Linked DNA regions of Homo sapiens. The protein of the gene in region 3 interacts with the protein of the main gene of each other region in a pairwise test. Each region holds a gene or a part of one and is shown on either strand. Other genes may lie near its edges. The genes, in order: CEP57L1, TCHP, MTUS2, NTAQ1, ZNF572, ZNF410 and NDOR1.

Region 1 (3,206 bases), on a different chromosome or scaffold from region 3:
AAAATGAAAAAACCTACAAAATTACCAAAGTCACCAAGTTTAGTTATTCTTTTCATGGTGGAAAACAGTTTCCTCAGATAATCATCATATCAGAGGTCATCATGTATCCTTAGATATCAGCATTGCCAAGACCAGGGATATAGTTATTAGTAATTTACAGGAAAGGCTCAAGGTTTCATTTACATGGGAAATGAGAACTAGACAGTGTGGTGACTGTTTTTGTTGTTAACCTTACCTCAGTGTTTTATCTCGGGTGGTCCCCAAGACCACCTTCAGGATCAGTGATTCACTGGAGGGACTCACAGAACTCAGAAAAGCTGTTAAGTTATGGTTATGGTATATTATAGCAAAAGAATATATATTAAAATCAGCAGCTGAAAAAAGGCACATAGGGCAAAGTCTGGGGGACACCAGGCACAAGCTTCCAGTTGTCCTTCACCTGTGAAGTCATGTAGACAGACCATAATTCTCTCAGCAGACAGACCATAATTCTCTCAGCAACAATGTGTGACAACATTCTTGGAGAATTGCTAACCAGGGAAGCTCCACCAAGCCTTGGTGTCCAGATTTTTTCTTGAGGGTTGGTCACGTAGGCATAGCATGACTGATAGCCCATGTGGCTGACCTTCAGTTTTCAGCCCCTCCAAAGATGGAGCTGATACTACATGGCCTAAGGACTTCACCATTAATCACATTGTTAGCTTAGACTACCTGGTATGGCCTAAGGCCCCCAAGTAAATTAAAACATTCATATCAGGCAGGATAGTCCAAGGACTTAGAGGTTATCTTGAATCTGGACACAGGACAAACATTTCTTTGGAATGTGAAAAGTTTACACAATCAAGACTTGCTATGTTGATCCTTTACTGCGGTATTGTTTTTTGTTTTCTGACCCAAAAGTGATGTGCATTGCTTACCTATCATGGCCTCTGGTTAAGGTGTCAGTCTTGCCTCCAAATTTCCTCCTAAAGCATGGAATTGGCCATAAATTTGCTTAGTGATTTTCTGATTTAGTATCATTAGTTTGATGACTAGTTTTATTATGTGAGTGTGATAAAAGGTTACGCTTAGTATACAAAGACCTTCTTATAAGTCTAGTTAATAAAACTAGGGCCATGTGTTACTACAACATAGGAGTTAACTTTGTCTGGAGGCTTTTTCAAGCCCAAGAGGTTGTCATTTCTTTATGTGTAAGATACTGCCCACATACTATACTGAAGTCAGGAACCAAGAACCGGTCAATTTACCTCAGCCAAGTTGCTTGGACTGCTTTGCTTAATAATGGGTTTGCCATATCTACTTTAATGAGATGTGTGGCATGGTGATGGTTACAAAAGTGATTTGTTAATTATTGCCTGGTAGGAAGGAGAACATGTTTTTTTTGAACCTATGCAAATAGCCACATGTCTGTGAAAAGTAAAGGGATACTTTTGTGTAATATTTAACCATGTATACCATTGTTTGTGTACTTTTTAATTGTGTCATTTTCTACAGTATTATTTTTGCATTTTCCTGACACTGTATTACTTACAAGTTATATTAATAATTTTTATTAATTTTTTTCCTGAATCCTAAAAGGTCAGTTGGAACATGAGACCATTTAAAGAATATTATTTCCTTCCAGTTTATTCAAGGGTGGCCTATTGAGAGTTTGAGATAAAGAAGAAAGGAATCTTTCCTTTCCTTCCCCCTCAGCCCGCCCCCTACCTTTCTTTTTTTTTTTTTTTTCTTTTCAGGGTCTTGTTCTGTCACCCAGGCTGGAGTGGAGTGAATGCAATCAAAGCTCACTGCAACCTCAAACTCTTGGGCTTAAGCAGTCCTCCTGCCTCTGCCTCCCAAGTAGCTGGGACTACAGGTGCATGCCACCACACCTGGCTAATTAAAAAAAAAAAAAAATTTTTTTTTTTGAGGAGACGCGGTCTCACTTTGCTGCCCAGGCTGGTCTCAAACTCTGGGCTCAAGCAATCCTTCCACCTCAGCCTCCCAAAGCTCTGGGATTACAGGCATGAGCCACTGTGCCCGGCAGAATTTTTCTGTGTCCATTAGAAATAGAAATCAGTCACATGCTATGATTTCAATATGTCACTCAAAAGCCATGTGTTGGGGCTGAACGTAGTGGCTCACGCCTATAATCCCAGCACTTTGGGAGGCAAAGGAAGGTGGATCACTTGAGGTCAGGAGTTTGAGACCAGCCTCCAACATGGTGAAACCCCGTCTCTACTAAAAAAAAAAAAAAAATTAGCTGGGTGTGGTGGCATGCACCTGTAGTCTCAGCTACTCATCAGGCTGAGGCAGGAGAATCGCTTGAACCCAGGAGACAGAGGGTGCAGTGAGCCGAGATCATGCCATTGCACTCCAGCCTGAGCCATAGAGTGAGTCTTGGTCTCAAAAAAAAAAAAAAACCTTGTGTTGGAAACCATCTCCAATGAAGCAGTGTTAGGAGATAGGGCCTAATGGATATAAATTACAGTGTCTAAGATGGATACTTTACTCTTTTCTTTTGAGAAGGGAGAGAGTATGTTATGCACTGAGAACTTTTCAGATTTCTTGCAGAGGTCATAATGTTCCAGACAAGCTGGCAGCAATCATTCCCATCCCATCACAGATCCAGGCTTATTTGTAGAATGGTTACACAAACCAAGCAAAACCTTCTGTAAAGTTTCTACCCTTTGCTCTAAAGTTACATAAAAACAATTTCCAAGTTTGTTCACTGTGTATATTTTGTTCTTTTTCATGGTAGATTTGTCTGTTGGAGTTAGATATCCCTAAATAGTGTGTTCAAATGATGTTTTTTTCTGACTGTTCAATCTCCAGCATATTTCTGAGGGAGAAAGGACATTGACTTTGGAGAAAGAAAGCTGTGTAATTACAAATGGACTATTACAAAGAACTATGCCTTCCTTTTTGAGGAGAAAAAAGATGGTTTTTAAAAATTAATACGCAGGCTGGGCGTGGTAGCTCACGCCTGTAATCCAAGTCCTTTGGGAGGCTGAGGTGGGAGGATGGCTTGAGCTCAGGAGTTTGAGACCAGCTTTGGCAACATAGTGAGACCTCATCTCTACAAAAAAAATTTAAAAATTAGCCAGGCATAGTGATGCATGCCTGTAGTTTCAGCTACTTGGGAGGCTGAGATGGGAGGATTGCTTGAGCCCCAGAGATGGAGGCCGTGTGAACCATGATCATGCCACTGCACTCCAACCTGGGAG
Region 2 (3,500 bases), on a different chromosome or scaffold from region 3:
AAGTAAACTAAGAAAAGAGTACACTACACTCCTTAACTGGAGTCACTGATGCTGAAAACGGTAAACGAATGCAAAGACGTGAACAGTCTCGCACAGCAGAATACGCGGCTATTCCCAGAGCCACATACCACACCTGTTTTTTTTCTTCTTTCTGCATTTCCCAAGAGTTTACGACATGCTTCTGGTGAAGGTCCAGCTCCATCTGAGGATGGAAGGGGGACGATGTGAATTTCCTCACCAGACAGATGGGCACTGTGGGGACAGTGTGCTCCTGCCCTCTGTGCCACCTGCGGGAACGTGGCCATGACTTCGCTTCATGGGGACTCAGTGGCACAGGCGTCTAGTAGAGAGCGTGGGGTGACTTCAACATGTATAGTGTGAATGCATGTCAATCAGAAGACCAAAGGACCAGGCACTCCTACACCAATCTTTTGAGCTGGTACAAAGTAACAGAGACTTCCCTCCCACTAGCCCTAGGGTTGGGCTGGACGCTGAAATGGAAATACAATTTCAAAGGCCACCTTGGGTTGATGTACTGCATGCCAGGCCCTGGGAGACAGCTGAGTGAGAAGACTCAACCCTGTGCCTGGCTCCCCGAAGTTTCCTCTGCAAAGCAGATGGACTACGTACTCCCTGTATCAAGTGATGCACCAGTAGGTGCAACAAGTTTAGCATTGTTAGTAAGAGATTTGAGCGCAGACAATCTCCTGGATTAGAAAATGGATCACAACATTCAATCCAAATCTTTTGTTTGGGAAACTGTTTATAAAATTAGCTGGATATGGTGGCGCCCACCTGTAGTCTCAGCTACTCGGGAGGCTGAGGTGGGAGGATCACTTGAGCCCAGGTTTGAGACCAGCCTGAGCAACACAGGGAGACCCTGTCTCTATAAAAAAGTTTTAAAATAATCTTTCCCAACTTACAGCTGTGAACATAGGCAATTAACTTGAATGTTCTGAATAAACTTTTCTGATTTAACGGCTCTGGATGATTCCACCGAAGCCAACAGGGCTAAGGAGTCCTCCCACAGATTAGTGCAAACTGCACAAAAGCACCAGATGTTCCATTATTTAGTGCCTGGCGATTTCTAAATGTAACTACGAATAACACGAAGGCACCAAATGTATACAAAAACTGTAAGTTGAAAATAAATGAATAACAGTGAGGGATGATCTCCCTGCAGCCAAATCTCCACTGAACAAGGCCACCAAGCCAAGAGGCCACCCCCTCCCCTGCCAGCCCAGTTCAGGCCTTCACCAACCCCCGGCTGGGCTGTCGCAGCACCCCTCCCTGTCGGCGGGCACATTGCTACCAGAGGAGTCTCTCTGAAATGCAGCTGGGATCCTGTATGCTGCCCCCAGCCCCTTTGGAGGAAGGTCACACAAGCTCTTCCGATGTCTGGCACCCTCTGCCTCGCCAGCGTCATTTCTTGGGGTTCTCCCTCACTATCTGACATCCTAGCCTCACCCAGACACTTTCAGCTCCCAGGGCTCGCTCTGTTCTCGAGTCTCAAGCCTGGTTCTCACAGTCACATCAACCTAGAACATCCTTTCCTCACCTCTACACACATACATCCCTTCAAACTCTTCCACCCCAGGAACTCCTCTGGGAAGCCTCCCCAACCCCTCCAGAGTTGAGTGCGCTGGCCCATGCTCATCCTCTCAGGCTGGCCCAGCACCCTGCATCCTGCCCTGTAATGAGCTCCCATGCTGGACACAAGCTAATGAGCAGAAACCATGTCTAATCTCCATGCCCGCACCTGGCAGACCAGGCAGCGGAGGTTCAATCAACATTTGTTCAACAACCGAATGAGCCGCTCAGCGCAGCCTGTGCCAGATCTTCTGCCTGGCGCTCTTTTCAGGTGGCTCAAGGTTCCCTCCTCTGTTTCAACCCGGTACAAGATACGTGTTCAAAAAAAAAAGTGTCTGGAAACATGATTTCATCTACTTAGATAAATCAATGGAGATCTCTGATTTTCACCTCTCGAAGTTTCGGGTTGTTCTTTTTCCAGTGTTCGTACAAAAGTTGTTCAGCAATCTATCAAGAAAACACAAAATGGAAAGCCTGATGTCATTTTTCAAATCCATTCACATTTTGGATGACACACAGTGGAAGTCAGCTCAGGCTATGAGTGCCTCCCTTCACACCGTCACTGCAACCACTGTTCAAACCCTCATGCTTCACATGCACAGCTCTGAGAACCACATGGCACTACCAAGTGACTCTTGCAATGATGACAAAAGGGGGCCAAAATCTGATGCTACACAGAGGTCCTATCTAGGGGGTCTCAAAATAATACAGCAGGCTGAAAAGCACAGATTAGGGCTCACTGTTTCACATAACTACTTTGGAAGGTAAAACAGACTAGTCCCAGATCTCTGTGGACCCACAGAACTGGAAGAAAGGAAAAGCACTCAGATGTAATGATTGAAGGGGCTAAAGAGACTACAGCTAACTGATCCAAAACCCAGTCCCTGCACAAGGACCTAAGCTCTTTTCCTGCTGGCTCTGGAGTTAACTGGCATCTCATCAGACCTGAGCACCCAGGAATGACCCTACATGTGCGACACACTCAGGCTGGGAACACTCCTGCTCCACAGCCTCCTGAAGCCCTCTGGGGAGTTACCAGTTTCCTCTGCTCTTCTTTGGCTGATTTCAGCTTCCCGTGCTGCTCCCGGATTCTTCTTTCCTGCAAGTTCATGCTCAGCCTCAGCTCCTCCAGTTCTCTGGCCAGCAGGTCCTGCTCCTCCTGCATGAGCTGCCTGAGCTTTTCCCGTCGGGCCTCCAGACTCCTCCTCTTCTCCTCCTTCATCTTCTCCCGCTGATAGGCATGCATGCTGGGTGAGAGGGGGCCTGCCTGAATCAATCATGCTACAGCCACAGGGAACGTGCTCTGCTCTGCTGTGTCGGTAAAAGAGGCTGAGGTAGATGTGTCATGACGACACAGGAATGTGTCCCCAGCCAAAGCAGAGACAGCAGGTCACAGAATAGTATGTGTAAGAGAAAATCTTGTTTTTTGCAAAAAGAAAATGTATAAATGTATAAATAATGTATATATTATCCATCACATAAATCCTACAGCATAGGTCTGCTGTAGCCCCACTTGATTGATGAGGAAACCAAAGCTCATACATTCAGCAAGAGACACGGTCAGGATTTCCATCTAGGTCTGACTTCAAAGCCTATGCTTTTGGCCTCCATGTTTTTACACGTATTTCTATAAAAGTAGCTTTGTGTGTGTATATTTAAGCACAAATACCAGTGGGAAACAGCATGGAAGGATATGTGCCAGACTGTTAACTGTGGCTGTCTCTGGGGATATGGGGTTACAACCAGGCTTCCAAATTCTATCATATGCTTCTGCATCATTTTATCTTTTTCAATGCCAATGTATGGCTGCACTGATGATCTTTTTTTCCATTTCCAGCTGGAAAAACATCACCATGCAGGTAATTCATACTGCCTGGCAAATCCTACGCTCCCTAAATCCTTAAGGCCTC
Region 3 (3,500 bases):
TAACATTGGTGTCGATGAATGACACCAGTGAGTGATTTATCAGTGGATTATCAATGAATGATAATGTAGAAGGAACTCTTAGCTTTTCCACGATAGTATGGGAACAAGAATGGATTGCAGATATTTTCGATGAAAAATTAAGGATGGGCTCCACAAGTTTTAAAAGGATAGAACGATGCATTGAGACCAGCAAGGTGATGTTTGAGAAGTATATTTTTATGATCCCACCCATGGGTGCTAAAACCAGTTACAAATGTCTCGGATTGGGTCAGTGGAGTTTAGGACAACTTATATGGTACTTTGGTGTTTTAATTAATGATGTGGAACTAGAGGGTGATTTATATGTCCATGAGGAGGTCATTCTTAGAATGCGTGGTTAGAAGTAGAAGAGAATGGAAGGCTTGCTTTCTTATGACTCTAGATGGTGCAGTTAGAATTGAAGTATTGTGCATAGCTCTGGTCACCTTGTTTAGGAGGGACTTCAGGTTCCCTGGTGCTACACGGTGTACTTAGAGGAAAGCTGTTTGGATGGTGGGAGTTTTCAAAAGCTAATCCCACAGTTGGGAGAATCTGAGTTCTTTGACAAGGAGTAGAATAGGTTTTGGGAGGAAGGGAGCATATAGCTCTTTGTAAATACCTGAAAGGTCATCTGGTGGAAGAATTGCATCATTCTGCTGTAGAGAGGCAGAGCTTGCCAACAGAGACCCTGCCCAGATGTGTGGTGAGTTTTCTGGCCCTAGAACCAGGGGAAGCCACTTAGAAGACTCTTAAGCATCAGGTAGGTTATAAGCCTAGATCTTTACATTCCTTTCAAACTAGTACTGAACTAATTGATTTTTTTCAAGATAAAATATCAATTACTTCTAAGGCCATTATTGTTAACTTTTTGTAATAATAGATCTGAGGCATATGAAAGTTACATGTCTCACTCTGGGAAAATGCACCTCAACTAGGGGTTTGTACCATTGGTTGACCTATTTGCATATTTTATTTAATCACACACAGTCTTGTATTATGTACAAGTTTGAACTTCTGTGATCATGTTATATATTCTGTGAAAACGTTTATCTTAGTAGAAGGCCTTGGATTGAAATTTAGATCCGGACAGAAATTCGTGTTTGTGTTTACTTTGCCGCTGTCTTATGGCAGGATGAGGGAGCTGGAGTGAGGGAGACGCGTGAGGCCACATAAGGAGGAGGGAAGCTGACAGGAAACATGACTTCCTGTATATAATTTTGCCTGATAAAATTGAAGAAAGTTTTTAAATTTGCTTTTCCTGTCTTATGTGAACTTCCACGTGTTGGTTTCTGGTTTTGTTTTTCTATTCTTGTTCTTACAATAGTTTGTTTTCCTTTTGTTCTTCCTGTGTGGTGTATGATTCCATTCATGGGCAGCTTTTCTTCTTTACAGCTTCTGCTTTCTAAATGTGTCCCAGCTCTGCCACTCATGAGCTGTGTGACCTTGGGAATGTTACCTTCTCTGTGCTTTCATTTCCTTACCAGGACGTGGGAAAAAAAAAAAAGCAAGGGGATGTGAAGACCTGTCTCTGGAGGCCTGCTATAAATATTATTAAGTGTCCTAACTTAAATTAAAATTGAATATTAAAGACTTGTAATTGTGTAATTTTAATTTAAAATTAAATTTTAGGCCAGGTGCTGTGACTCATGCCTGTAATACTGGCACTTTGGGAGGCCAAGATAGGAGGATCACTTGAGGCCAGGAGTTTGAGACTAGTCTGGTCAATGTATCGAGACCCTATCTCTACAAAAAATTAAAAAATTAGCCAGATGTGGTGGTGTGCACCTGGAGTGCCAGCTGCTTGGGAGGCTGACCCAGGAGGATCTCTTGAGCCCAGGAGCTCATGGTTGTGGTGAGCTATGAACGTGCTACTGCACTCCAGCCTCGGCAACAGAATGAGATACTGTCTCAATTTTTTAAACAAATTTGTATAATGGCTGAGAAAATACTGGGCCCCTAGGAGGTTCCACCTTTCTTTCTGTCCCCTTACCAGTGAGTACCAGTTGTTTACTGACAAAGATAAAGAACATTTATGATGTAGTTCCTTAAAAATTAAAATACAACTCTTTCTAGCATGACATTGGTTTTATATTTCTTTGTCACTTTCTTGCAATCATGTTACATGTTGTGGACTTTGGTACTTTGTTTTTGTTTGTCTCTGCTGAGCAAAGTTTCTTTCTTTCTCCCAGCTTCAACAATTCAAACCGAAGAGGGCTCTTGGCTGCATATTTATACTTCTGCCCACAGAAAATTAGAGGCAGTTCCCTTCTGTGGATGGCCTATATTTATGAACTTTCTTGCCCTTCTTGACTTTGCAAGATACCCGTTTCTCATCCCAGAGAGCACAGCATTCTTTTAAACTGTGATCTTATTGATTTGCCTACATGCTTTTTGTATTTGTGCTTAGAGAACATGTGTATCTTCAAGGGAAACGCTTTTAAAATTGAATAAACAAAGACACAAGGGTTTGTTGAGAATCCCCTCTGTGTCAGGAAATGAAGACTGTGATCAGGGTATGAGCAACTTGGTTGAGGGCTATATTGGGGTCAGGCTGCACCAGGGGGTGCTACTGGCTTAGTGGAGATAAGGCTGGTAGAAGATGGAGAAGGAGAAAAAGCATGAGAGCGGGGAGGATGAGGACAGTGAGGGAGTCGTGGAAAGAACAGAAGAGCAGTGTGGTACGGAAATGCAAGCGCACATGCACATGTATGACTCTGTATTTTCCCATGATCATGCAAACATGGGGAAAGAAATGGAAAGATCTAGATGTTAATGTGTCTTGGGGTATGGGCTAGAAGAGGCAAATTTTAAAAAATGGAACAAAAACCAGCTTATAGGAAATGATCTTATGTATGTAAAAAAGTTTACATGCTTATGTATAGACGCAAAAGAAAAGAGATCTCTAAGTTGGAAACACAGAGGGCTTCAGTGAGGAGGAGCATGAGGATGGCTGCAAGGTGTCCTTGGGTTGGGTGATGGGCTGTCACGTGTTATATTATTTTGCTTTGTAACATATACATTTTATTAAATAGAGATAGGGTTTTGCTGTGTTGCCAAGGCTGACCTCAAGTGATCCTCCCACCTCAGGCTCCCAAAGCGTTGGGATTACAGGTGTGAGCTACTGTGTCCAGCCCTCATATTCTTTTTAATATATGAAACAACATATTAACAGGGATAAAGGGAAAACAAGTGGGTGGCCACGTTGCCATGTAACCTGTTTCAGGAGAAACATAACAGTAGCCTCACATGTGGTGTGCACGTGTGCTTGCACATTCTTGATGAATGAGGAGGAAAGTGTGGAAGGCTTCAAGTCTCCATTGGGGGAATTGGTGACGGGGCAGAACCTTGTTGCTGTTAAAATCCCCTATCCCCAGTGCCTAATAAAATGCACTCATAATAGTGGATGAAACAATGTCAACCTTGAATAGAATGGTTTAGTGGTGATCTGTGAGTCTACTTTAACAGAAAAGCATATCCTGTGT
Region 4 (3,500 bases), on a different chromosome or scaffold from region 3:
ATCCCAGCACTTTGGGAGGCCGAGGTGGGCAGATCACTTGAGGTCAGAAGTTAAGAGAACAGCCTGGCCAACATGGTGAAACCCCATCTCTACTAAAAATACAAAAATTAGCTGGGTATGGTGGCACACCTCTCTAATTCCAGCTACTTAGGAGGCTGAGACAGGAGAATTGCTTGAACCTGGGAGTTGGAGGGTGTAATGAGCCAAGATCACGCCACTTCACTCCAGCCTGGGCAACAGAGCAAGGCTTTGTCTAAAAAAAAAAAAAAAAGAAGAAAGGAACGCTACTCTCAACCTTTACTCAGAAAGACGAAAAGCAGCCAGGCGTGGTGGCTCACGCCTATAATCCCAGCACTTTGGGAAGCTAAGAGGGGTGGATCACTTGAGGTCAGGAGTTCGAGACCAGCCTGGCCAACGTGGTGAAACCCCGTCTCTACTAAAAATACAAAAACTAGCCAGGTGTGGTAGTGGGTGCCTAGAATCCAAGCTACTTGGGAGGCTGAGGCAGGAGAATCGCTTGAATCCAGGAGGCAGAGGTTGTAGCAAGCCAAGATTGTGCCACTGCACTCCAGCCTGGGCAATAGAGCAAGACTCCGTCTCAAAAAAAAAAAAAAAAAAAAAAAAAAAGGAGTTAATCCTGGCCAGCGTGGTGGCTCATGCCTATAATCTCAGTATTTTGGGAGGCCAAGGTAGGAGCAATATACTGAGACCCTACCTTGATTAAAAAAAAAAAAGAGTCAATTCCATAACTAAATCCAACATACCCAATAATGCATGTATCTAAAACATGCATTAATTTAAAGTCTGTTTTCTTTTTTTTGAGACAGAGTCTCCCTCTGTCACCCAGGCTAGAGTGCAGTGGTGCAATTTTGGCTCATTGCGACCTCCACCTCCCAGATTCAAGCAATTCTCCTGCCTCAGCCTCCTGAGTAGCTGGGATTACAGGCGTGCACCACCACGCCTGGCTAATTTTTGGTTAATATGGGCCAGGCACAGTGGCTCACCCCTGTAATCCCAGCACTTTGGGAGGCCAAGGCAGAAGGATCACCTGAGGCCAAGAGTTCAAGACCAGCCTAGCCCACATGGCAAAACCTCATGTCTACTAAAAATATAAAAACTAACCAGGTGTGGCCGGCGCGGTGGCTCACGCCTGTAATCCCAGCACTTTGGGAGGCCGAGGCGGGCAGATCACGAGGTCAGGAGATCGAGACCATCCTGGCTAACACGGTAAGACCCCATCTCTACTAAAAATACAAAAAAAAAATTAGCCGGGTGTGGTGGCGGGCGCCTGTAGTCCCAGCTACTCAGGAGGCTGAGGCAGGAGAATGGCATGAACCCGGGAGGCGGAGCTTGCAGTGAGCTGACATCGCACCACTGCACTCCAGCGTGGGTGACAGAGTGAGACTCCGTCTCAAAAAAAAAAAAAAACTAGCCAGGTGTGATGGTGTATGCCTGTAATCCCAACTAATCCAGAGGCTGAGGCATGAAAATTGCTTGAACTCAGGAGATGGAGGTTGCAGTGAGCTGGGATCGTGCCACTGCACTCCAGCCTGGGCAACAAGAGTCTCAACAAAAAAAAAAGAAAGAAAGAAAATTGGGCTGGCAGTGCTCACCTCGGCAGCCCATATAGTAATTGGGCTGGCAAAAGCCCAGCACAAAACAGCATCCAATGACTAGTAGTCATCAAAACAAAAGGAATTGCCCCAGTTGGACCAGGGCTGACAAGGGGTTCACTAAATGCCTGCGATGCACTAGGTTCTGTCTTAGGTGCTCACATCTCAAGGGGAAACAGGTAGCTGCTAAAGGCACACTGTGGCCAGACCAGGCCCTGTAGAGCAGGTTGCCATAGATGCTAAGGCAGACCCCTCGAGCCCTCTCCTTACCAGGGAGCTTCCCCAGTTCTCACACTGAGGCCAGGAAGCAGCTCTGTGTACTGATAAGCAATTCCAATATAATTTTTTAAATTATGAGAGCTTTTCATAGAGAGCCTCAAAAATCAGAGTTTGAACCCTCTCTTAGTGTTCAGTCCCCTCAAATATGCCAAATGTATATTTTACTTTCTTCCGTTAAACTATTTTTTTCTTTTTCTTTTTTTTTTTTTGAGATGGAATCTTGCTCTTGTCACTCAGGCTGGAGTGCAGTGGTGCGATCTCGGCTCACTGCAACCTCTGCCTCCCGGTTCAAGCAATTACCCGGTTCAAGTAATTCTCCTGTCTCAGTCTCCCAAGGAGCTGGGACTTCAGGCACACACCACCACACCCGGCTAATTTTTGTATTTTTAGTAGAGACGGAGTTTCACCACATTGGTCAGGCTAGTCTCGAACTCCTGACCTCAGGTGGTCCACCCACCTCAGCCTCCCAAAGTGCTGGGATTACAGGCATAAGCCACCACGCTCAGACCCTTGTTGAAGTACTAACACTACTGCCCTATTTTTCTGACATGCTGCAGAGCTCACAGAGCACTTTCACACAGACTGTATTATCCAGGTGTTGGGATGATCTCACCCCTAAGTGGGAATGTTGTGAATTACTTACAAACGTAAATAATACTTCAAACTCATATGAATGCCAAACAATAGTAATAGGGTGAAGGACCCTTTATCTTCTTAAATGTCAGGAAATTATCAACTGGATTGATGCCTAAAAGCACATAAATGAGACAAGTGGTACAATAAAACCTGCTAGCGCTCACCTCCCTCTAATGCAGATTTTATTATATAGCCAAAGTGACATTTCACACATCATAAGGATGCAATGGGGATTTCTTTCACCACAGCACAAAACCCTACCATGGCAAGGTGCTACTAGTCCCGCTGTTAAATGACACAAGCATGCGAGTATCCTGATGTTCAGTGTCCCCGCAGTAGCTACATCCAATAATCCAGCAGTTTGCAGGTGCCCTGGTTCTGATCCTTAACACCCTTCCTCTCCCACATGTTCTTATGCCTTCCAGTCCTATTCTCTGTGCCTTCATTTCTGAATCTAATACACACACAGAAGTAGTATTTCCTATGACCTCCTTATCATTCATGGAATTTTTTGTTTTTTGTTTTTTGTTTTTTTTTTTTTTTGAGATGGAGTCTCACTCTGTCACCCAGGCTGGAATGCAGTGGCCCGATCTCAGCTCACTGCAAGCTCTGCCTCCCAGGTTCGCACCATTCTCCTGCCTCAGCCTCCCTAGTAGCTGGGACTACAGGTGCCTGTCACCACACCTGGCTAATTTTTTGTATTTTTAGTAGAGACAGGGTTTCACCGTGTTAGCCAGGATGGTGTCTATCTCCTGACCTCGTGATCCGCCCACCTCGGCCTCCCAAAGTGCTGGGATTCACTCATGGAGTTTTATTCAAAGAACAACCTGACTTTTGTCCTCCGTTAAGGAAAAATGCTGATGTGTATGTGATCAATCAGAACCCCCATCTGAGAAGGCATCTTGGCTCACCTCCAGTCTCAATGCAGGGATATGGCGGCGGAGGCTCTCTCCAATTCCCACTGGAGTCTTT
Region 5 (3,595 bases), on a different chromosome or scaffold from region 3:
GATCCCTTGAGCCCAGGGGTCTGAGGGTGCAGTCAGCTATGATGGTGCTAGTGCACTACAGTCTGGGTGACAGTGTGAGACCTTATCTCTTAAACAATTAATAAGGGCCGGGCGCAGTGGCTCACGCCTGTAATCCCAACACTTTGGGAGGCCAAGGCAGCTGGATCATGAGGTCAGGAGATCGAGACCATCCTGGCTAACACGGTGAAACCCCATCTCTACTAAAAACACAAAAAATTAGCTAGGCGTGGTGGCAGGCACCTGTAGTCCCAGCTACTCGGGAGGCTGAGGCAGGAGAATGGCATGAACCCGGGAGGCAGAGCTTGCAGTGAGCCAAGATCGCACTACTGCACTCCAGCCTGGGCGACAGAGTGAGACTCCGTCTCAAAAAAAAAAATAATAATAATGAATAAGAAAAAAATAAAAATAAAAAGCCAATAATGCCTAATGTTTTCCCCCTTTTTTGAAAGCAGAAAATTTCCCCCAAATTCTCCAATACCTTTATTTGTTAGTTTTTGCTTTATTTTTGTAATCAAATAACAATACAAAAACACACAAATACCCCGCCAGCATCAGGTGCACCACAATCATGAAAGATAAAATAACCCCCATGCAATTAAATGACCATCAGCTACAGAACTTTGCAGCAGCTACAACTGACCCATTCTGGCTTCACATTCCTAATATGCATCTCTGCATATTATTCATAAAATACATTCTGAATCCAAAAATTAGATGAAATCATGGGCAACTCAGGAGTCCTAATCTTCCTACTCATCTACCTTTTGCACTAGCAGGAAAAAAATGGGAGGAAGGGAATAGGATATATCTAATAATTTCCAAAGCATCATTCCCATAGGAATGAGTAGGGAAGATGGGACCTCAGTTATCAGATCCATATACCAATTATGTCAAGAGGCAAAAGAAAACTGTCAGTACCAAAGCTAAGAAGTCTCAGTACTCCTTAATGACAAACTGTCCTTGGACACTGGCTCAGATTTAGTGAGTTAATTATTAGAAAAAGAACCCAGTTCTTGAGCTGACCAAGAATTACATAATGGGATAATTTAGGGAAAAGGCTCTTCATTGCAAATTTTAAGATAGAATTCAGGAATCCTGCCTTCTATTCTGGCTTTGGTCAAGACAGTGAGGTCATATCACTAGATAACTCAGTTGGCAGCACATGAATTAGAACACACAATCATTAAAATATCCAATGTCTAAACCCAGTGTCTTCAATACTCTATCCCAATTCTACTCTATATTACAATTCTTTTTGGAGAGCAAACCCTCCAGAACACACTTCTACAGTCTTTATAGGAAATATTTATGGGTCTGTCAAGAATGATGATCTTGAATGAAAGAACCTTCTATAATATCCAATACAGTAGCCGCTGGTCACACAGAGCTACTGAGCACTTAGAAAGTGGCTAGTGTGACTGAGGAACTGGATTTAAAATTTCAATTAATCTTAATACAAATAGCTACATACGGCTAGAGGCTATGGTACTGGACAGTATAGTTCTAGATGGTACGACAGTTAATTTTTAGTGACTAAAAATGCATTTGAAAAAAAAAAATCTTAAGCCCCCAACAAAATAGCCAGGAAATCACATTATTTGCTCAAAAATACCCTTTCTTTGGGTAAACCCCTGAGGCCAGTAATGATGTATCTCTACCCAATAAGGGAAGAGAAAATAAAGTAATTCAATAGCAATTCTAGCTTCGGTTCTCATGGTTCCTTTGCTTACTCTCAGGATTACTCTGTATGTGTTCTTTTGAAGCTATTACTATCTTACCTTAAATTTTTAAAAGTCCTCCTTTCTTCATCCTTGGTGGATGAATCTCTCACTGGACAGATCCAATAACCTGGTGATTGGGGTCTTCCCATCCTTTAAACTGGGAGGTTGACTTTTTCCAAATGTTTTGACAAACACATCAAAGAAACTTTATAGCACAACAATCACAGAATACCTAAATTGTCATGGTCCAACAAGGAAGAAAAAACCATCACCAACCAGGCTTTGGGACTCAGGAAGATGAATTTGAGACGGAAAATGAAGAGATGAAGGGCATTTCCCCTGAACAGTTTTTCCAAGTCCATTCATGAGGAAAATCCCCAACGTCGGGAGACTCAAAAGGCTTTTCTACGTGAATTTTCCGATGCTGACTGAGGTAGGCACTTCTGCTGAAGCATTTCTCACAGCTGGTACATTTGTAAGGTTTTTCCCCTATGTGGGTCCTCCGGTGCCTGATAAGGTTAAAGCTCTGACTGAAGCTTTCACCACAATCAGGACATTTATAAGGTTTCTCTCCTGTATGTGTCCTTTGGTGAATCACCAGGGTGGAACTCTGACTGAAAGTTTTCCAGCACTCAGAACATCTGTAAGGTTTTTCTCCTGTATGTGTTCTCTGATGTCTAATGAGATGGGAGCTAAGGCCAAAACTCTTCCCACATTCACAACATCTATATGGTTTCTCTCCTAACTGGATTCTGCATTCTTCTATCACATTGCAGTTCTGACCCAAACTTTCCTCATATTCAGAACTTTCATAGGATTTCTCTCCTGTGTGCATTTTCTGGTGTGTAATAAGGTTTGAACTACGACTAAAATTCTTCCCACATTCTGGACATTGATAAGGCTTTTCTCCTGTATGTATTCTCTGATGTTTTATTAGAGTAGAATTACAACCAAAGCTTTTTTCACACTCAAGACATTTGTAGGGCTTCTCACCTGTGTGTGTCCGCTGGTGGCGAATGAGGCTGGAACTCTGACTAAAACTCTTCCCACAATCAGGGCACTTATAAGGTTTTTCTCCAGTGTGAGTCCTCTGATGTTCTATTAGGACATAGCTGTGACTGAAGCCTTTTCCGCAGACAGAACATTCATATGGTTTTTCACCTGTATGTGATCTGTGATGCTGAATAAGGTGAGAGCTGCTGCTGAATCTCTTCCCACACTCGGGACATTTGTAGGGTTTCTCTCCCGTGTGAGTTCTCTCATGGATAATAAGATGGGAGGTATTGCTGAAGCTTTTCCCACATTCACCACACTGGTAGGGCTTCTCTCCTGTGTGCATTCTTAGATGCTGAATCAGGTGAGAACTGTTACAAAAACATTTTGCACACTCAGAGCATTTATAAGGCTTTTCTCCTGAGTGGGTCCTCTGGTGAGTACGCAAATGAGAACTATTACTGAAGCTTTTCCAACATTCGGAACATTTATAGGGTCTGTCTACAAAGGATGAATTCTGCTGGACACAGGCATTGGTATGTTCTCCTGAGTCCCATTCCTGGTGATTGGGTTTTTCCTCCTCTTTAGCTATAAAATTTCCCCAATTCTCTGACTTGCCATCACTCTCATAGGAATCATGACACCAAATCTCATCTTGAACCCATGTCAGTGGCATTTCTTTTGCATCCTCATGCTTATAATGTTGTGGTCTATGTCTTTTAGACCATTCTGAAGGTTTCTCTTTAAGTTTATCTGCCTTAGAATTATTGTGGTGAACAGTTTCCAAATTATTCATACTTGTATCTCCTGCAAGAATAAACAAATATTCTAACCATATTCCAAATCTCTGCCAGAGAAGT
Region 6 (3,500 bases), on a different chromosome or scaffold from region 3:
GCAAATTATCTCATTTATCAGATTGCTTTGTTTTATTGGTGGGCGGACAAGCAACAAAAAGTATATAAATTTTAAAAGGTTGCAGATGATTCTACTGTATAGCTATGTTTGGAAACCATCAGCCCATCAAATGAGACCAGGTCTATCTACCCAAAACAGAATCAGAAAATTTCCAGATAAGCAGGCAGGACAGTGATTTGGCTCTTGGAACCCTAGAAGTAGTACAGCGTTCCACTATGCCCACCCTCCTCACCAGTTTGCTCCTGCTCTTGACTCCCAGCTGCTCCCAGCTGCAGGTGATGCTTTCTCATATGCACATTCCTGCTTCCACTCTGAGAGAAGGTCTTCCCACAGACTTGGCACTGATGAGGCTTCTCTCCTGAAACAGGGACCAGGTTAAACAAGGAAGCCAAAAGGACAGGAAGAGAATGAACTCAAGACCTAGATGGAGAAACCCAGAGAATGTTAAACTGAACATAAGCAGCTGCTCCTTTTCCCATTCCGCACCTTCCCAGCCTCTCAAACTTCAGTATATGGGGGAAGGCAGGAAGAGTACACCAGGAGGGCTTTAGCACACTCCCTGCTCCCAGCTGCTGGTCCTTTCCAGACCTTCTGTAATGCTGCCTTCACAAAACCTCTTTGGTATAGGACCATGGCAACCACAAAAAATATGCCTTCTTTTTCAGTTAGTCTTCCATGGACCTCTAGGACATGTGCTTTCCTCAAGGATTTCAATCCTGTGTTCCTAATATCCCCTTGTCATATTCCCTGCCACCCTCTTTAGGGTCATCAACATTCACACTGGTGGCTCTTACAACATAATAATCTAAATTGTCCTCTATGTCTTCAAGTCCCAAACTCTCCGTCTCCATTCTACCTACCCAGAAAACCATACTTAGAGCAGGGGTCAAAAACTCATGTCTATAGGAGACTGATAGGTAGCAAAAGTAAGTAAAATGGCCAAGTGGGGGCTGCAGTAACCTAGAGAGTACCTAGAAAAGGGGCAGCTGTTATTCAGCTCTAGCCAACTGTTGCCATGGGTAGATTAAGGCAGATTCTCTGATTTTTTTTTAAGACACTGGAAATAAGGATTTTTAAGTAGAATCTCCCAATTTCTAAATGCTAGGAACAAATTCACAATTGACAAACACATGGTACAGCAATCATCATTGCTGATTGTATTTTGCTGGGAATGCAAAATACAAAAACCTCTTTGGGGGAATCTGACCAGATCTAGAAAAATTGTAGATGCACTTGCCCTTTGACCTAGGAATCCCACTTCTAGGAATATGTCCCAAAATTACAGCAGCAAAATGTGAAATACTCTGTGCACAAGGTTATTCATCACGGCAACATTATTTTAAATGGCTAAATACTGGAAACAACGTAAATATTCATCACAGAGACTGACTAAAAAGCTATAGATACTGCAGTAGTCCTGCATAGCAAAAAAAAAAAAAAAAAAAAAAAAACCTATACAATAGAAACAGGGTGGAATATTACAAAGCTTAGAACTAAAAACTGAATCACCATTTGAACCAGCAATCCCATTACTGGCTATCTACCCAAAGGAAAATAAACTGCTCTACCAAAAAGACACTTGCCCTCACATGTTCAATGCAGCACTATTCACAACAGCAAAGACATGGAATCAACCCAGGTGCCCATCAATGGTAAATACGATACAGAAAATGTGGCACATACACACCATGAAATACTATGCAGCCATAAAAAAGAACAAAATCATGTCCTCTGCAGCAACATGGATGCAGCTGGAGGCCATTATCTTAAGCAAATTAACACAGAAACAGAAAATCAAACACCATGTTCTCACTTATAAGCGGGAGCTAAACACTGGGTACTTATGGACACAAAGATGGGAACAATAAACACTGGGGATTCCAAAAGCGGCTACGGGGCAAGGGCTGAAAAACTACCTATCAGGTACTATGTTCACTGCTTGGTCAACAGGGTCATTAGTAGCCCAAACTTCAGCATCTTGGAATATACCCTTGTAACAAACCTGCACATGTACCCCCTGAATCTAAAATAAATTTATTTTAGCCAGGTGCAGTGGTTCACACATGTAATCCCAGCACTTTGGGAGGCCGAGGCGGGCAGATTACTTGAGGTCAGGAGATCAAGACCAGCCCGGCCAACATAGTGAAACCGCATCTCTACAAAAATTAGCTAGGCGTGGTGGCGGGCGCATATAATCCCAGCTGCTTGGGAGGTTGAGGCAGGAGAATTGCTTGAACCCAGGAGGTGGAAGTTGCAGTGAGCCAAGATCATGCCACTGCACTCTAGCCTGAGCCAGAGTGAGACTCTGTCAAAAAAAAAAAAAAAAAAAAAAAAAAAAAAGGCCGGGCACGGTGGCTTACTCCTGTAATCCAGGCACTTTGGGAGGCTGAGGCGGGAGGATCACGAGGTCAGGAGATCAAGACCATCCTGGCTAACACGGTGAAACCCCATCTCTACTAAAAATACAAAAAGGTAGCCGGGCGTGGTGGCGGGCGCCTGTAGTCCCAGCTACTCGGTACGCTGAGGCAGAAGAATGGCGTGAACCGAGGAGGCAGAGCTTGCAGTGAGCCGACATCACGCCACTGCACTCCAGCCTGGGAGACAGCAAGACTCCGTTTAGGGGAAAAAAAAAAAAAAAAAAAAAAAAAAAAGGCCATATGAAATGTCCAGAACAGGCAAATCCAGACACAGAAAGCAGATTAATGGTTGCCAGGGGCTGGAGAAAGAGAGACATGGTCAATGATACTAATAATGGGACTTCTTTTTCTTTTTTTAATCATCTCCTGGATATGGGGATCCTTTTTGGGATGATGAAATGTTGTGGAGTCGGACAGTAGAGAAAACTGTAAAACTATGAATATATAGTTGGCCATCCACATCCATTGATTCAACCAAGCAGATAAAAAATATTCAGAAAAAATAAAAATAAAAAATAACAGGCCAGGCGCAGTGGCTCATGCCTGTAATCCTAGTACTTTGGGAGGCCAAGGCAGGTAGATCACTTGAGGTCAGGAGTTCCAAGACCTGGCCAACATGGTGAAACCCTGTCTCTACTAAAAATATAAAAATTAGCCAGGCACATGCCTGTAATCTCAGCTACTTGGGAGGCTGAGGCAGGAGCATCACTTGAACCCAGGAGGTGGAAGTTTCATTGAGCCAAGATCGTGGACCACTGCACTCCAGCCTGGGCAACAGAGCGAGACTCCATCTAAAAAAATAAATAAATAAAAAATAACAATATAGCAATAAAAAATACAAATAACCAATATAGCATAACTATTCACATAGCATTTACGTTGTATTAGGTACTATCAGTAATCTAGAGATGATTTAAAGCATATGGGAGGATATGTGTAGGTTATATGCAAATACCATGCCATTTTATGTAAGAGACTTGAGTATTTGTGGATTTTGGTATCTGTGGGGTCCTGGAACCTATACACCACAGATAACAAGGGATAATTATATTACTACTAAAA
Region 7 (3,500 bases), on a different chromosome or scaffold from region 3:
CCAGGCTCTGAGCTGCCAGGAGCAGCTCTGCACTTGGTCTCCAAACTGTCCACCGCCCCAGGGGTCCCTCACCTCCACCTGTCATTTCCCAGCCAGAGCGTGGGCCTCCACTCCCTGAGTTGGTCTGTCCCAGAGGCTCCTATACTCAGACCTCTGAGGTCCATCCCAAGGGCTCTCACACTCGGCCCTCTGAGGTTCCAGTGTCGCTGAGACACATCCCCCTCCTTCCGTGGCTGCAGGACCTCGAGCCAACAGGGTCCAGATCCTCTGGTTCCACACCGTGCCTTCCACGGTGTCCTCCCAGCTTGATCAGAGGCCCCCCCAAGGAACCTACTGCCCCCTCCCTACCTGGATCCCAGGTGGCCTGTGTGCGTGGTCTTCGCCGCCCACCCACCTCCCCTTCCCGTGGCCAAGCATGGAGGCTAGCAGACAGGGAGGCCCTGGCCTTGTCAGCCCACAGCTCTGACCCTGGCCCTGGACCACCCCTGGCCTCCCGGGACCTCACTGCCTCATCAGCTGCCTCTCTGGGCCACGCTATGCGAGCAAATGTACCCAGCCTCTTGCCCCCGAGACCCTCCCTAGCGCCCTGCTGTTGAGACACCCTTGCTTCCTGAATCCCAAAAGACTCTCTTCCCTGCTCCGTTTGGTGAACTTCCTCCTTCCCGAGAAAAGGGTTCTGGAGAGAACATTCTTGTGACTTTTCCCTCACTCGACTGGCATGCGGCTGGGTCTGTCCTGGGCTTGGCACCACCACTGAAAAGCCAGGGCCCCACTTGCTGCCCTTGGGGTGTGTAGGGCACTCTGTCCCCAGAGGCTAAACCCACAGTGACATGCCCCGGGGGTAGCCCTTTCATTCTCAGCAGGGCCCTTCCTGGGCATGGGGCTCTCTGGCCGCAGACCCCGCTCTAGACATCATTACTTTCCTGGATAACTTCCTCTCCACCATTGTCTTCTCATTCTGAGGCCACTGGAATTATCTTCGAATTTTGGTATCTGCTTCCTTCCATTTTCTATCTTGCTTTTTGTCATACTTTCTAGAAGGATTTCTCATCTTTTTTTGAGATGGAGTCTCACTCTGTAGCCCAGGCTGGAGTGCAATGGTGCGACCTCAGCTCACCGCAACCTCCGCCTCCCAGGTTCAAGTGATTCTCCTGCCTCAGCCTCCCAAGTAGCTGGGATTACAGGTGCGTGCCACCATGCCCGGCTAATTTTTGTATTTTTAGTAGAGACAGGGTTTCACCATGTTGGCCAAGCTGGTCTCGAACTCCTAACCTCAAGTGACCCACCCACCTCGGCCTCCCAAAGTGTTGGTATTACAGGCGTGAGCCGTCGTGCCCGGCCTTTTTTGTTGTTGAGACAGGGTCTCATTCTGTCATCCAAGCTGGAATGCAGTCTTGAAATCACAGCTCACTGCAGCCTTGACCTTCTGGGCTCAAGCGATCCTCCAACCTCAGCCTCCCAAGTAGTGGGGATTACAGGTGTGTGTCACCACGCCCAGCTAATTTATTATTATTTTGTTTGTAGAGACTGGGTTTCGTCATGTTGCCCAGGCTGGTCTCAAACTCCTGGGCTCAAGCGATCCTCCCACACCTTGGCTTCTCAAAGCGCTGGGATTCCAGGCTTGAGCCACTGTGCCCAGCGTCTTCTAATCTTTTAAAGTTTTTTCATGTCCATTTAAAGAACTATTTCTGGCCAGGTGTGGTGGCTCACACCTGCAAACCTAGCACTTTGGGAGGATGAGGCAGGCAGACTGCTTGAGCCCAGAAGCTTGAGACCCCATCTCTACAAAAAATACAAAAAAAAAAAAAAATTAGTTGCATGTGGTGGTGCGCACCTGCAGTCCCTGCTACCCAGGAGGCTGAGGTGGGAGGATCACCTGAGTCTGGAAGGTCAGGGGGCAGTGAGCCGTTGATGGCTGCCACTGCACTCCAGCCTGGGCAACAGAGCAAGAGCTCTGTCTCCAGAAAGAAAAAGAAAAAGAGAAAGAGAAAAAACTGTTTCCTGTTCCTGAGTCTCCAGCTTTGCCCCGTGGGGGTAACATCCTTGGCTGCTTCAGCCTGTGCCCGTCTCTGCCTGTTATGCGGGTCTTTCCTCGGGTGGGGTGTGGTTCTTTCTGGTGCATGTTTTCACCCAGGCTGGAGTGCAGTGGTGTGATCTCGGCTCACTGCAACCTCCACTTCCTGGGTTCAAGTGATTCTCCTGCCTCAGCCTCCTGAGTAGCTGAGATTACAGGCATGCACCAATACACCCAGCTAATTTTTTGTATTTTTAGTAGAGATGGGGTTTCGTCATGTTGGCCAGGCTGGTCTCAAACTCCTGACCTCAGGTGATCCACCCGCCTCGGCCTCCCAAAGTGTTGGGATTACAGGCTTGGGCCAGCGCGCCCAGCGCCCCATGGGTTTCTTCACCAGACAGGCAGGGACCTGGTCACTTGGCCTTTCACTGTGGTTCCTCTGTTTTCTCCTGTCTGCTGCTGGGGGCACCTGCCTCACCTACAGCATCCTCAGCAAGGAGCCAGGGTCTTCCTGTTTCGCTGTGGATGGAGAGCCAGGGTCCTCTGGTTTAGCTATGGATAGCCACTAAGACTCGCCCCTGCCTCTGAGGCCATGGGCCCTGGGTCCACAGCCTCTTCAAGGAGCTCCCAGTTCCCGCTGTGGGCATTAGCTGCCCCCTCCAACTCCTGGTCTTCTCTGTGGGTGCCCACACTTGGGACTCTTCGTTTCCTCGTTGACCTGAATCCCGGCATTAGCACCAGCTTCCTGCCACTGGCTGACTGAATGCCCAGCCCAGCCTCAGTCCCTCTCCTCTCCCATGCTCTGGGGCTTCCCTATCCCACCATTCCCCTCCCGTGCCTGTGCTCCACTCTGAAACCCCTTCTCTTCCATCCCACTCTATCTGAGACCCCTCGACCTATGTTCAGCTCTCCCCCAAGCCGCTGCACATCCCCTGCCATACCTACTCAGTCTTCAGCCTCTTTCTCCTGTCTCTCCCCTGCCAGCAATTAAACATGCCAAGTTTTGGCCGGGTGTGGTGGCTCACGCCTGTAATCCCACCACTTTGGGAGGCTGAGGCAGGTGGATCACGAGGTCAGGAGATTGAGATCATCCTGGCTAACACGGTGAAACCCGATCTCTACTAAAAAAATACAAAAAATTAGCTGGGCGTGGTGGCGGCGCCTGTAGTCCCATCTACTTGGGAGGCTGAGGCGGGAGAATGGCGCGAACCCGGGAGGCAGTGCTTGCAGTGAGCTGGGATCAACGCCACTGTACTCCAGCCTGGGCGACAGAGCGAGACTCCGTCTCAAAACAAACCAACAACAACAACAACAAACAACAACAAAAAAAACATGTCAAGTTTCTCCCGTCTTTTTTTTTTTGAGACAGGGTCTTGCTCTGTCGCCCAGGCTGGAGTGTAGTGGTGTGATCACAGCTCACTGCAGCTTTAACCTCCCAAGTTCAAGAGCTCCTCCCGCCTCAGCCTCTGGAGTAACTGTGATCACA

What was found.
Region 1: the proteins of MTUS2 (region 3) and CEP57L1 interact in binary tests that used the Homo sapiens proteins (3 or more experiments, as listed by UniProt).
Region 2: the proteins of MTUS2 (region 3) and TCHP interact in binary tests that used the Homo sapiens proteins (3 or more experiments, as listed by UniProt).
Region 4: the proteins of MTUS2 (region 3) and NTAQ1 interact in binary tests that used the Homo sapiens proteins (3 or more experiments, as listed by UniProt).
Region 5: the proteins of MTUS2 (region 3) and ZNF572 interact in binary tests that used the Homo sapiens proteins (3 or more experiments, as listed by UniProt).
Region 6: the proteins of MTUS2 (region 3) and ZNF410 interact in binary tests that used the Homo sapiens proteins (3 or more experiments, as listed by UniProt).
Region 7: the proteins of MTUS2 (region 3) and NDOR1 interact in binary tests that used the Homo sapiens proteins (3 or more experiments, as listed by UniProt).

Annotation. Positions count from the first base shown.
Region 1 is NC_000006.12:109,171,713-109,174,918, forward strand, and holds the end of CEP57L1 (centrosomal protein CEP57L1), read left to right. Parts: 3' UTR 1-2,706; downstream 2,707-3,206. UniProt on the Homo sapiens protein: Centrosomal protein which may be required for microtubule attachment to centrosomes.
Region 2 is NC_000012.12:109,903,274-109,906,773, reverse strand, and holds part of TCHP (trichoplein keratin filament-binding protein), read right to left. Parts: intron 2,854-3,500; exon of another isoform or gene 2,838-2,853; coding exon 2,627-2,837; intron 2,038-2,626; coding exon 1,981-2,037; intron 1,946-1,980; exon of another isoform or gene 1,760-1,945; intron 203-1,759; coding exon 134-202; intron 1-133. UniProt on the Homo sapiens protein: Tumor suppressor which has the ability to inhibit cell growth and be pro-apoptotic during cell stress. Inhibits cell growth in bladder and prostate cancer cells by a down-regulation of HSPB1 by inhibiting its phosphorylation.
Region 3 is NC_000013.11:29,019,339-29,022,838, forward strand, and holds part of MTUS2 (microtubule-associated tumor suppressor candidate 2), read left to right. Parts: intron 1-3,500. UniProt on the Homo sapiens protein: Binds microtubules. Together with MAPRE1 may target the microtubule depolymerase KIF2C to the plus-end of microtubules. May regulate the dynamics of microtubules at their growing distal tip.
Region 4 is NC_000008.11:123,437,274-123,440,773, reverse strand, and holds part of NTAQ1 (protein N-terminal glutamine amidohydrolase), read right to left. Parts: coding exon 3,440-3,500; intron 2,641-3,439; coding exon of another isoform or gene 2,558-2,640; exon of another isoform or gene 2,445-2,557; intron 1-2,444. UniProt on the Homo sapiens protein: Mediates the side-chain deamidation of N-terminal glutamine residues to glutamate, an important step in N-end rule pathway of protein degradation.
Region 5 is NC_000008.11:124,976,295-124,979,889, reverse strand, and holds the end of ZNF572 (zinc finger protein 572), read right to left. Parts: intron 3,543-3,595; coding exon 2,032-3,542; 3' UTR 501-2,031; downstream 1-500. UniProt on the Homo sapiens protein: May be involved in transcriptional regulation.
Region 6 is NC_000014.9:73,917,859-73,921,358, reverse strand, and holds part of ZNF410 (zinc finger protein 410), read right to left. Parts: intron 380-3,500; coding exon 254-379; intron 1-253. UniProt on the Homo sapiens protein: Transcription factor that binds to the sequence motif 5'-CATCCCATAATA-3', and is specifically required to silence expression of fetal hemoglobin in adult erythroid cells.
Region 7 is NC_000009.12:137,208,700-137,212,199, reverse strand, and holds part of NDOR1 (NADPH-dependent diflavin oxidoreductase 1), read right to left. Parts: intron 1-3,500. UniProt on the Homo sapiens protein: NADPH-dependent reductase which is a central component of the cytosolic iron-sulfur (Fe-S) protein assembly (CIA) machinery.